Linked DNA regions of Homo sapiens. The protein of the gene in region 1 purifies or fractionates together with the protein of each later gene. This does not show direct contact. Each region holds a gene or a part of one and is shown in the gene's direction. Other genes may lie near its edges.

The links.
Region 2: the proteins of SLITRK3 (region 1) and ACVR2A purify together in Homo sapiens (affinity purification with mass spectrometry; one large-scale study listed by BioGRID and IntAct). This does not show direct contact.
Region 3: the proteins of SLITRK3 (region 1) and VAMP4 purify together in Homo sapiens (affinity purification with mass spectrometry; one large-scale study listed by BioGRID and IntAct). This does not show direct contact.

Annotation. Positions count from the first base shown.
Region 1 is NC_000003.12:165,193,566-165,197,752, reverse strand, and holds the start of SLITRK3 (SLIT and NTRK-like protein 3 precursor), read left to right. Parts: upstream 1-1,368; 5' UTR 1,369-2,173; intron 2,174-4,187. UniProt on the Homo sapiens protein: Suppresses neurite outgrowth.
Region 2 is NC_000002.12:147,914,436-147,918,088, forward strand, and holds part of ACVR2A (activin receptor type-2A isoform 1 precursor), read left to right. Parts: intron 1-755; coding exon 756-899; intron 900-2,847; coding exon 2,848-2,991; intron 2,992-3,653. UniProt on the Homo sapiens protein: On ligand binding, forms a receptor complex consisting of two type II and two type I transmembrane serine/threonine kinases.
Region 3 is NC_000001.11:171,731,988-171,735,640, reverse strand, and holds part of VAMP4 (vesicle-associated membrane protein 4), read left to right. Parts: intron 1-3,653. UniProt on the Homo sapiens protein: Involved in the pathway that functions to remove an inhibitor (probably synaptotagmin-4) of calcium-triggered exocytosis during the maturation of secretory granules.

The DNA of each region.
Region 1 (4,187 bases):
CCTACAATTATAATAGCTAAATAACTTTGCCTTCCTTGGACAATGTATTGCATTCTCTTCAGGAAGAAATGGCAAGAGATACAGAGATGATTCCCCAGGCTACCTTCTATTCACTTTGGGAGTTAGTGGAAGACTGCCCTCTTTCCAACACAGTCTCTGATGAAAGGGATCTATTAAAAAGAATTGCGTTGGTTTACACTGCAGATTGAATGGAGCATTAAACGAATGACTGCATTAGTATGACTGCAGTGGGGGTAATGGTCGCCTCTGTAATGTTGTAATAATACTTTCACATACGTGTTATTACACGTATTAATTGTTCCAGTGTCCGTATCTAATTTATCGCGAAATGGTATCCAGCATCTCTCAGGCAAATGCCCCCCTCCCAACTCCCTGTGCCCTACAGTTTTATGCCCCCCGCCCCCGGCAAATGTAAACAGATGAGGAAATATGTGTACTTTCAAATCGTCACCCATGTATCATGAAGGTGGGGGATTACTGCAAATCACTTGGAAACCGCTCCCCGGAGGCGTTTAGCGATACCGCCCACCAATACAGCTCAGATGTTCTTAATTTGATCACCCTCCACCTTTTGGGCTGTAATTTTCCAAACAGGCATCTCTCTCATTTGCAAATAAAAGTTACAAATCAATCCACGGGTACAGAATGCTGACTTCCCGACACTCAATTTCACAGGGTGTCTCTTGAAGAGCTGCCAGGTTGTGACCGATAATGGGGGAGAGGGAAAGGCGGACAGCGAAAGCGAGAGAGAGAGAGCGAGAGCGAGAGCGAGAGAGAGAGCGAGAGAGAGAGAGACAGAGAGAGGAGAGAGAGAGAGAGAGAGAGAGAGAGAGACAGAGAGAGAGAGAGAGAGAGAGATCACTTGCTTCCTTGCTTCCTAAGCCGGGATTTTGCCTGCGATGCGCGGCGAGAGGACTGCGGCGGCTGATTTACACAGTTGGCGCGGAGGAGGGGCCGGGGGTGCGGGGGGGACGCGCTGGCGGAGCTCCGGCGATGGGCTGATCTGGGGGCTCCCGAGCGCCGCTCCCTTGGTGCGCGATTTGGGGGCGGCTGATGGATTTGCATTCAGGTTCCAGCCCTGCGTTTCCTATATTGACTCCTTATACACGACCTGGCGCTCCAGTTTAGGAGGAGACGTTGGTAAGTAACGTGTAATCCGATTTTAGTTATTTCCTAGGCCATTAAAGTGGCACTTTTAAAGCAGGTCAGTCTTAAAAGATGCCGCCGCCGCCGCCGCCGCGAGCGTCTCCTTGGCCTGAAACGTTCAGCAGTCCCCTCCCCCTCCCACCCCCCTCCCCCGCACCTTCTCCCGCTCGAGAAGTGAGGGTGCTTGAATGGTGAGCGGTCAGAGGACTCACTCTCTGCCAACGGTATCGCTTCACCTTCGTGCTTTGCCTGAGATCTCCCAAATCCAAGTGGAATTTGGTGTGCACAGCCATACTGTGTATTTGTATCTTCTCTCCCCCTCTCCTTCTTTCCCCCCACCTTCGCCGTCTGACCAATGCTGGGATCTGAGATCTAGTCGCCCCCTTCCTGCCTCCTTTCCGCCTCTCCCCACCCTTTTCTTCTCTCATCTACACGCCACCAACCCCCACTCCCACCCACCTAAAGGGCAAAGAGCAAAGACACCCTGGAAAAGCAAGGGCTAATTCCATCTTCTCGGATGGAAGGAGGCCTCGGGCAGGGATTGCGCTGTGAGTGACAACCTTTGAGGAAGAGAGAAAGAGAGAAATCCAGAGACTGAGCTCAGGCTCTCGGGAACAACGAAGCTCTCCACTGATCCAGAGCACCGAGATTTTAAATCAAAGGAACCTAGTCCTGGGACACTCACTCTGCCTGCCTGCCTACCAACCATCGAGGGCATAGGGAGCTGTGGTCGTGAGCTCCCTGTCGCTGGCATCGCCGCGCTAGGTGCGCGCCCCGCTCTCCCATTGGTATGCAGCGACCATTTCCCTGCAAGTCTCAAAGGTGGAAACATTTAAACGGATTACAAGCGTGATTCGGTAGCCTTTCGGAAAGTTGGTGGCCAGAAGAGGAGAAGCTACAAGGCTACAGTATGATGGATACAATTCAGCTTCGCAGAGAGTTTGCCCCTCCTGCTGGGTAGCCCCTCGCAGCAAACCTCGGAGATCCTGAGCGCTCTGCACCATAGGTACTCGCCGCCATCCTTTCCTACTTCGCCTAATTGAAACCAGTATTTCTCGTATGTAGGATGTGCATTGTAGAGCACATCGAGTTTGGCCGCGGTGTATTCTGTACGCTCACAGGTGCTAGGGGTTTGTTGCAGTTTTGAATTGGATCAGTTAGGTGTAAGGACGTTGGTGGAAGGAGGGGTACCGGAGACTAACATACCCTCGGACCTCTTTTCTGGGTGAAGACATCGTAAGTAACTCCAACAAATAGGCCAGGTGGCGGAGCGAAGGACCCCTCCCCCAGTGGAATGCTCGCTGGTGTTGTAAGAGGTAGAAGGAAAAAGGCTTGAGCTTTTAATAATTTTCCGTTTCTAAACAGACCATTGTGCGTTTCGCCTGACGACAGCAGATTAGAAAAGGCTCTATAGACGGCTCAAAGCTCTTCAGAAAATGAATGATGCAGCGTTTTAATTATTTGTTCTAGGGAAGATAGTTTTGCTTCCATATTGGAATACTTAATCTTAGATCTGAAAAAATTAGTGAGCTGTAAGATCCAGCAGTGGGGAGGAGGAAGTGGGAAGGGGGCACAGCAGGGAGAAAGGGCTTCTTGTCCTCCCTCTGGACAAACAAATGGCTCTGGGCGCTCCCAGCAGGACACGGAAAAAACTGGGGCCCCATGGCTCAATATTCCCTAACTTTTGGAGCCCTCCCTGTCCTTTAGACGCGCTATCCTGAGCTAAAGAAAAGGAAAAAGGTGAGATAGCCTTTAGGACACAGCCCAGGTCCAGAACGTAAGGGGTTTTAGTTCAAGAAATAACAGAGACTTCATTGCCGAGACAACATTTACCGTCATCTGGAAGCTCAGGGCAGCCTCCGGGTTACCCATCGATTCCATCACATCATGGGTTCCGATAACACCCGATAAATAGTCACCGCCTCTGCACATTGGGTACCCAAAGTGCTGGGCGGGGGATGGGGGGGAGGGTGCGGGTGCCGGCAGCTGGGGAGGGAGAGGGAATTGCTCTGATTCTGAGCTTAGGCTATCGGTATTGGTTTACTTCTTGGCTAAGACCTATGGGAGCAATAGGGTGAGTCTGGAATATTAAGGGTAGAATGTTAGAAAATTCTGCCCTCCTGCTTACTTAGTGTATGGTGGCATGTTTCTAAAATTAGCTACTGTCTGCCAGTGGACTCCTGTGCGGTCATTTTAAATGCAAAATATCATGGAAATTGCCTTTGACTGACTTTTAAGGAACACATTGTTAGGTGATTTACCTGTTTTAGAGCAGTAAGAAATTGACATGTAAGCTGTGCTTTGCTTTAAAATTTGCTTTTGTAAAGGGTCCATTAAGGGAAAACCATCTCTACCTACTAACTTTGAGTCCTTGGGCAATTGAGGTTCAGTTTAGTTCTTTAGCAACCAAAAAGTCCCTGCCTTCTCCCCTCCCGGCGAGGAGTTGGTGACAGGATTGGTGTGTGCTGGTGGGGGCAGATGGGGAGCATCCACAGCACACGGGTCCTGTTGATTAGACTCCTTTGCTGCACACTTGGCTCTCCCCAGTTTCCCCACCAAGCTGCATTCCTTCCCAGCAGGCAGGACTGTAGTGCTGTCAGCTGAGCCTTAAAAAAATTCCTCTGAAAGCGTTCCTGAACTGTCATCTGGTAGTCCCTCTACAATACAATATCTTCCTTCAATCACCTCCACCCCCACTCCCACTACTCCCTAGGATTCACTCCCCGAAAATTTCACGGAGAAATATTTGAGTTTAAAAAATAAGAAAGAGAAAGAACGGACAAAAGCATCCAAATCCTTAAATCCACCCCAATCCCGCGAGGTCTTTCCCGGTGGCGCAATGTGAAATGTACCATTGTTACCCAAGTGGTCTGTATCTCCTTCCAGAGAATTGGCTTGTCTCTGTTTTTAAAAAGTGGAAGAAAAGAAATGCTGTTGAATCCAGGGGCTATCGAAGGCTTTGACCTGCAGCACAACAAAAGAATTCCTGGTGCAACGGGATCGAAGCAAAATGCAGGAGA
Region 2 (3,653 bases), on another chromosome or scaffold:
AACTATAGCAGTGCACGTTTCTTTCATTTACCATATCCTGTTATCTACTATGATGACCACTTCTTTTCTGGATTTTTATTCGTACTTCTTTGCCAGTCAGTCAGTTCCAGAACACAAATGATTTTTTATCTCAGATCAAAGGGATGAATTGTTAATATGTTTAAAATTAGAATGAACCAGTTTGGTTAAAGAAATATTTACTTACATATTTCCTGTATGTGCTTTGTATTTGATATACCTATCTGCAATGTGTTTAAGAATGACTGCCGGTATCTCTGAGATTAATGAAGAAAAAATTTAAACAGTCACTGGAGAAAGTAATAGATCTTCAGGAGAGGTTTTTGCTGATATATAGTCATAATTTGCTGTTTCTGGCACTTTTCAAATCATCCTCCTCGAAGTACACACTGGATGAAACAAATGAAATATTGTTAGGAGTATTTCGTAGTTCACAGAAAATCTTAGTGGGGAATATTACTGAGACTGATCAGAAAGATTTTAGATCTTCTCTCCTGTGGTACATATATAGCAATAATGCTGAACATTATTATGAAACTCTGAATTCAGGTTGCCTGCCTTGTGATCACTATAGATAATTAGTAATCTAATTATGGCAACATTGAAGTTAATGTCATTCATATGTGTTTACTGTTTCTGTCAGTTGACTTTTCAGTATACTCACTTTTTTTCTCATTTTCAGAGTTGGTGTGTGTCATGTTCTGCTTATTTATAGTATTATTATTATTTATCTGTAGGACCCAGGACCACCCCCACCTTCTCCATTACTAGGTTTGAAACCACTGCAGTTATTAGAAGTGAAAGCAAGGGGAAGATTTGGTTGTGTCTGGAAAGCCCAGTTGCTTAACGAATATGTGGCTGTCAAAATATTTCCAATACAGGTATGTTTATTGCAGTTTTGTCATCTTACATACATGTTTTATGGCTAGGTCATCATAACTCAGAAATAGTCTCAAAACAGAAGCCATATGTACCAAGGTGGTTCTTTGTGATACTGGGGAAAGCAGTTAGCTCTTTTAATGCCTGCCTTTGCATCTGAGAAATGGAATTGTTAATATAACAATCATTATGTTTGTCTGGAGTGGTGGAATTAAATGAATGCATAGTAGATCTTTTGCCAGTGAAAATTCTAATAGAAATGTTAAATAAAGATAAAGATTCCAATAAACAAGTCTAATTGAGTGGTTAAATTTTAATATCCCCCTACGTTGTCAGAGAAAGCAAACAAAAAAACAAAAGAGCAGTATACTTTGTTTTAGAATTGGTATTTAGAGGTATATCACCAGACTTGACTTACTTTCATTCTACTTTGAGTGTTTAATTATTTCAGTTTTTGTTTGATGCATTTTCAGAGGCAATCGAGACTTCAAATAATTGGTTTACTGTTGAATTGTTTTTAAGGTTGGCTGGACTTCTCATAAAACTCTGATCTAATGTACCTCTGAGCTATTCTTGTGTTTTGTTTTGTTCCGTTGGTGGTATAGATTTATGATGATTCTGTCTTCCCCATCTCTTGCTTATATACCCTGGCAGCTCATGATACCCTTGGTACTGACGTCTTGGCTGGATTTGGTGTTGCAGGCTCTACCACCATACTTAGAGAGTGGATGTTTCTTTTTCCAAAGTTATCATATAAGCAGTTTCTTTGTCTTAATATACCTAGATTTTAACCTTTTTACCTCCTCTGTTCAATCTTACCTCCTCTGTTCAGTCTATAAACTGTTTACATAGAGTTTATGAACTGTATTACATTTTTTTTTGGTAGCTGTAAACCACAGTTTAGTTTTCAGAGAGAAAGTGTATTCTGTTGTGCCAAGATTCATAAATAAGATAAGGGAAGAAATTATTTCCATGTGTAAGGAAGCATAAAGCTCAGAGAAAGGCATTTGGATGATATTAACAAGCCCGACAACAGCAACAACAGTAGCTAACATTTTATTGTATGCTTTTATTGGGTCAGGTAGGGGTGTTTTACATATATGAGTACTCACTAATATGTGTACGTATATTACCCACATGTACATAAAATGCAACATATAATACAACAATTCTATAAGACAGACACTACAATGCCTTTTCTACTTAATGAGGACACTGAAGGATTATGTAACTTGCCAGAGGTTAGTGGGAGAGCCAGGATTTAAGTTTGGACAGTTTGGATGCAGAGAGTTTCTAAGGGTTTCTAACCATTATGCCATAGTGCCTCTTACTATTATTGTCTTTTAGTAGTGAAAAGAAGCTAATCTTTTATAAGTAGATACTTAGTAGACATGGATTGCTTGCAGGCACAAGTGAATATATGGTGTCTTAAATTATTGCATTGCATATCTTTGCCCCTTGCTTTCTCATAGACCTTGTAGGGTATGCTAAACATTTTTTGAAGGATGTTTGATATTATGTTAGTTTTTGAAAAGAAGAAGTTTTCTATTTAGAGGAAGTCATTCTGCCGGAATTTCATCTTTCAAGGAGATTATTCTGAATAGTACCACAAGTAACTTCACACCATGATGAAATTACAGTGTAATACTTGCAGTAACTTACGTGTTGCCATTGTAAGACACAGAATGCAGCATTTCCGATCACCTTCTGTGTTTGTAAACTAGAAACACAGAAAAGTACGTTTTGAGGGAATGAAAAGGGCAGGCATTTAGTATAAATTTGTTAACCTATTGTCAGAGCTTTTTCTTATTACAAAACAGAACAAAAAATTTTTTAAGACTTTTTTGTTTTGTTTTGTTTTACTTTGGAACTTATTTGAGTAATCTCTTATGCATGGTTTATTAAACCTGTATTCCTTGTGTTCTTACTATTCTTTCTTTTTGACTCTAGGACAAACAGTCATGGCAAAATGAATACGAAGTCTACAGTTTGCCTGGAATGAAGCATGAGAACATATTACAGTTCATTGGTGCAGAAAAACGAGGCACCAGTGTTGATGTGGATCTTTGGCTGATCACAGCATTTCATGAAAAGGTAAAACTACTTAACGTTTTACTTTAGTAAAGTCTGAGTTGGCCTGCCTACCTAATGCTGGCTATAAATCCCTCAGAGTTATTTTTCGAGACATCTTATAGTTGATTAATATTTAACCTGAAAATAAAAATCATTCTTGAATAAAAATGTTTTAAAAGGTAGTTTATTTTAATAAAAGAGCAAAGATGGCAACTTTTTAACCTAAAACTCTACTCATATAAACCACCCTTTTGTTCCTTATTTCTTGTGCTGTAATTACTCTTACAAACATTTATTTTAGTGTAGGTAATGCTTAGTAATTTTCATTTACCATTTACAATTCATTTTGATTACGTGAACCATTTTTTTAAGTTTTAATCAGTCTTGCTTGTGACAAAACCAGAGTCAGGAAATTTATCTGATCTTTGATCTGTCACTAACTTGCAGGGTAATTATCACCAAAATGTAATTGCTAGTTTTCCTCAATTTTTCTACTTTTAGAGTCAGTGTGAAAGTACCATTAATGAAGTAGGAAATTATGTTTTTGGTAATTGGTTTCATCATTGTGAAATGTAAGTGGTTCTTTTACTTCTCTTATCTTGACCTAAAGGACAACAATAATCTAGAGGAATATTCTACATATTAGTTGTTATTTTATGTTGTTATTTTGTGTTCTGCTAGTC
Region 3 (3,653 bases), on another chromosome or scaffold:
TTGCCCCAAGGAAATCTTTAGTCACTTACCCAGAGATGCTTGCAAAGCATTAATATCCTGGAAGATGATCAATAAATGCTGACAGTTGATTGACTGATATCTGAGATATGTCAGGTAAATACCTCAGTCCTGGACAGAGAGCCCCTAAGTCACATCTGCCTTTGTGTAAGATGAAGACTGAAGTATGGAAATGTATGTAGTAAAATCACCTCTCGGAACTTGTTTGTAATTCATACAATCTATGTCAATTTTGAAAAATGTATGTAAAGCAGAGAAGGTTGTAGCCAAATTCAATGTATAGTATGCAAGAGTATATTATTTAATAATTTTTAATTGATGCAAATCCCATTAATTTTATAGTTTTATTTTTACATGATTTTAAACTGAAACTATTTATATTTCCTAAGTTCCCCTGTGTTTCTTTCTCACAATCACTGCTGAACGTAAATTTGTTGTTCACTTAATGGAATCACTGTTAAGGACACAGTCACTTGAATATGATTGCTTTTTAAAAATCAAGTCCAGGCGTGATATACTAGGATCACAGTTTCATGGCATGTTGGTCATAATCCTGAGAAAATAGTGACAAAATTATTATTTGTAGATATTAAATACCAGTTTAATAATATGTGTGGAAATCAGATTAAATAGTACATAAAGCCCACCCTAATAACAAGGGCAGGAAAAATTACTTCAAGAAAAACAATAGTAAACCTTAAATTAAAAATAATACAAATAAATAAGCTTTATGAATACATTTTTAAATTTAAAATGTATTGTCTCAATAAATTCCACTGCTGAGACTGTAATTGTATCACTTTCTCCTTATATTCTTCATTGATTATTAGTATATTAGACACCAGAACTGAATAAAATTGACTGTTTCAAGAGAACTCCTTTTTGATGTTTATTATATTATGAAGTTTGATAACTGATTGGTTAGAATAATATATAAATTACTTTTAAAATCTTTTAAAAGTTTTGTTCCTCTTTCCTATTATACTTTTTTGGTAATAGCTTTATTGAGATAAAAGTCACGTACCATACAATTCACCCACTTAAAGTGTACAATTCAGTGAGTTTTATTATATTCACAGAGTTGTGCAACAATCACCACAATCAATTTTAGGATATTTTCATTAGCCCAAAAAGAAATGCTGTGCCCTTTTGCAGTCATCTCCCATTTTCTTTATCCCCTCAGCCTCTAAGCAACTGCACTCCTATAGATTTGTCTATTCTGGACGTTTTCTGTAAATGGAATCATATAACATATAGCCTTTTGTGACTGGCTTCTTTGACTTAGCATAATGTTTTTAAGATTCCTCAACGTTATAGTGCATATCAGTGCTTCATTTTTTTTTTTTTTTTTTTTTGAGACGGAGTCTCCCTCTGTTGCCCAGGCTGGAGTCCAATGGTGCGATCTCGGCTCACTGCAACCTCCACCTCCTGGGTTCAAGTGATTTTCGTGCCTCAGCCTCCCAAGTAGCTGGGATTACAGGCGTACACCACCACGCCCAGCTAATTTTTGTATTTTTAGTAGAGATGGGGTTCCACCATGTTGGCCAGGCTAGTCTCGAACTCCTGACCTCAGGTGATTCACCCACCTCGGCCTCCCAAAGTGCTGGGAGATCTTCATTCCTTTTTATTGCTAATAATATTCCCTTATATTGATATAACACATTTGGTTTGCCCATTTATCAGTTCATAGATGTTTGGGTTTTTTTCTACTTTTGGCTATTTTAAATACTACTGCTATGAGCATTAGCATACCAGTTTTTGTTTGAGCATGTTTTTATTTCTCTTTGGTGTATACCTAAAGGTAGAATTGCTGAGTATTGTAGTAACTCTCTGTTCAGCCTTCTGAAGAACTGCCCAGCTGTTTTCCAAAGTGGTTGTACAATTTTTACATTCTCACCGGCAATGTATGATGATTCTAATTTCTCCACATCCTCACCAACACTTAATATTATCTGCCTAGTGGGTATGAAATATTATCTCATTGTGTCCTATTATTCTTTTTTGACACTGTATCCCTAGCACTTGTGTTTATTCAATTAATATATGAAAAAGCATTGGTTTTCATGTGTGTTTCTCAGTGTACAATTATAGTAAACATATCTTTAGTATCATTATCCTCTAAACCAAATAAATTATTACTATTACTATTATCATTATTATTTTGAGACAGGGTCTGGCTTTGTCACCCAGGCTGGAATGCAGTGGCACGATCAGGGTTCTGCAGCCTCCTCCTGGGCTCAAGCAATCCCCCCAAGTAGCCTTCAGAGTAGCTGGTATTACAGGCATACACCACCACGCCTAATTTTTTTTTTTTTTTTTTTTTTTTTTGTAGAGATGGGGTTTCACCGTATTGCCCAGGCTGGTTTCGAACTCCGGGGCTCAAGTGATCCTCCCTCCTCATCTTCCCAAAGTGCCAGGGTTACAGGCGTGAGCCACCATGCCCGGCCATAAACCAAATACATTATATTATAAATGTAATGCTTGTCTGTTACTTGTTAGCTAGAATATTACTCAAGAAATATTTATTTAAAAAATGACCTAATGCATTTCCTTGAATATTAATTGGTTTTGAACATTTCATGTGGTCATTGGCCATTTCTTCTATTGGGAATTATCTATTTCTATTCTTTGTTTTTCTATAATGTCTCTTTTTCTTACTAGTTTGTCAAAGCTTTTTATATAATACAGACATCAGGTCTTTTGTCTTAAAGGATACTGCAGATGTTTTTTCCCAGTCTGTTGCTTGTTTTTTAACCTTGTTTTTGATGTCTTATGTTCAAGTTTTAAATTTTTATATAATCAAATATGTTAATCTTTTTCTTTCAGACTTCTGGAGTTGTGTGTTGTTTAGGAATAACTTACCCATCTTAAGAGTTAACTATTTATATATTTTCAATCTTTGTGATTTCATAACAAAATATGTCTAAGGTCCCATTTTCCTTTAAGTACTGCTGTGGCCATACTCTTCAGATTTTGACCTGTGATCTTCCCAGTGTCTTTCATTTCAAAATAGTCTAATCACCTTTATTTACATTTAACATAAAAGTTAATGAGAAGGATGTTTTTTGTTTTTTGTGAGGTTTTTTGCTACAGGGTCTCCTTTTGTCACCCAGGTTGGAGTGCAGTGGCATGATCATAGCTCACTCTAACCTCAAATTCCTGGGCTTAAAAGATCCTCCCATATCAGCCTGCTGAATAGCTAGGACTACAGGCATGAGCCACCATGCCTGGCTAATTAAATTTTTTTTTTTTTTTTTTTTTTCCCATAGAGACACGGTCTTGCTATGTTGCCAGTGCTGGTCTTGAACTCCTGGGCTCAAGTGATCCCCCCACTTTGGCCTCCCAAAGTGCTGGGATTACAGGTGTGAGCCACTGCACCCAGCTGAGAAGAGTATTTTAAAACTTCCTTTTTCCATCGCATTATGGTCAGAGAATATGACTTGTGTAATTTCTATTTTTTGGAATTTATTAAATGTCCTTTGTGGCTTACCCATAAAGGAAAATAAAATAAAATTTGCTGTCTAGTTTCAAAGTTCTAGATTTTTTTGTGTGTTTGGCTTCTCCATCTCTGAAGGGTATGTTAAATCCTCCCTATGATTTTGATGTAACTGTTTCTCATAATTTGCGCAGCTTCT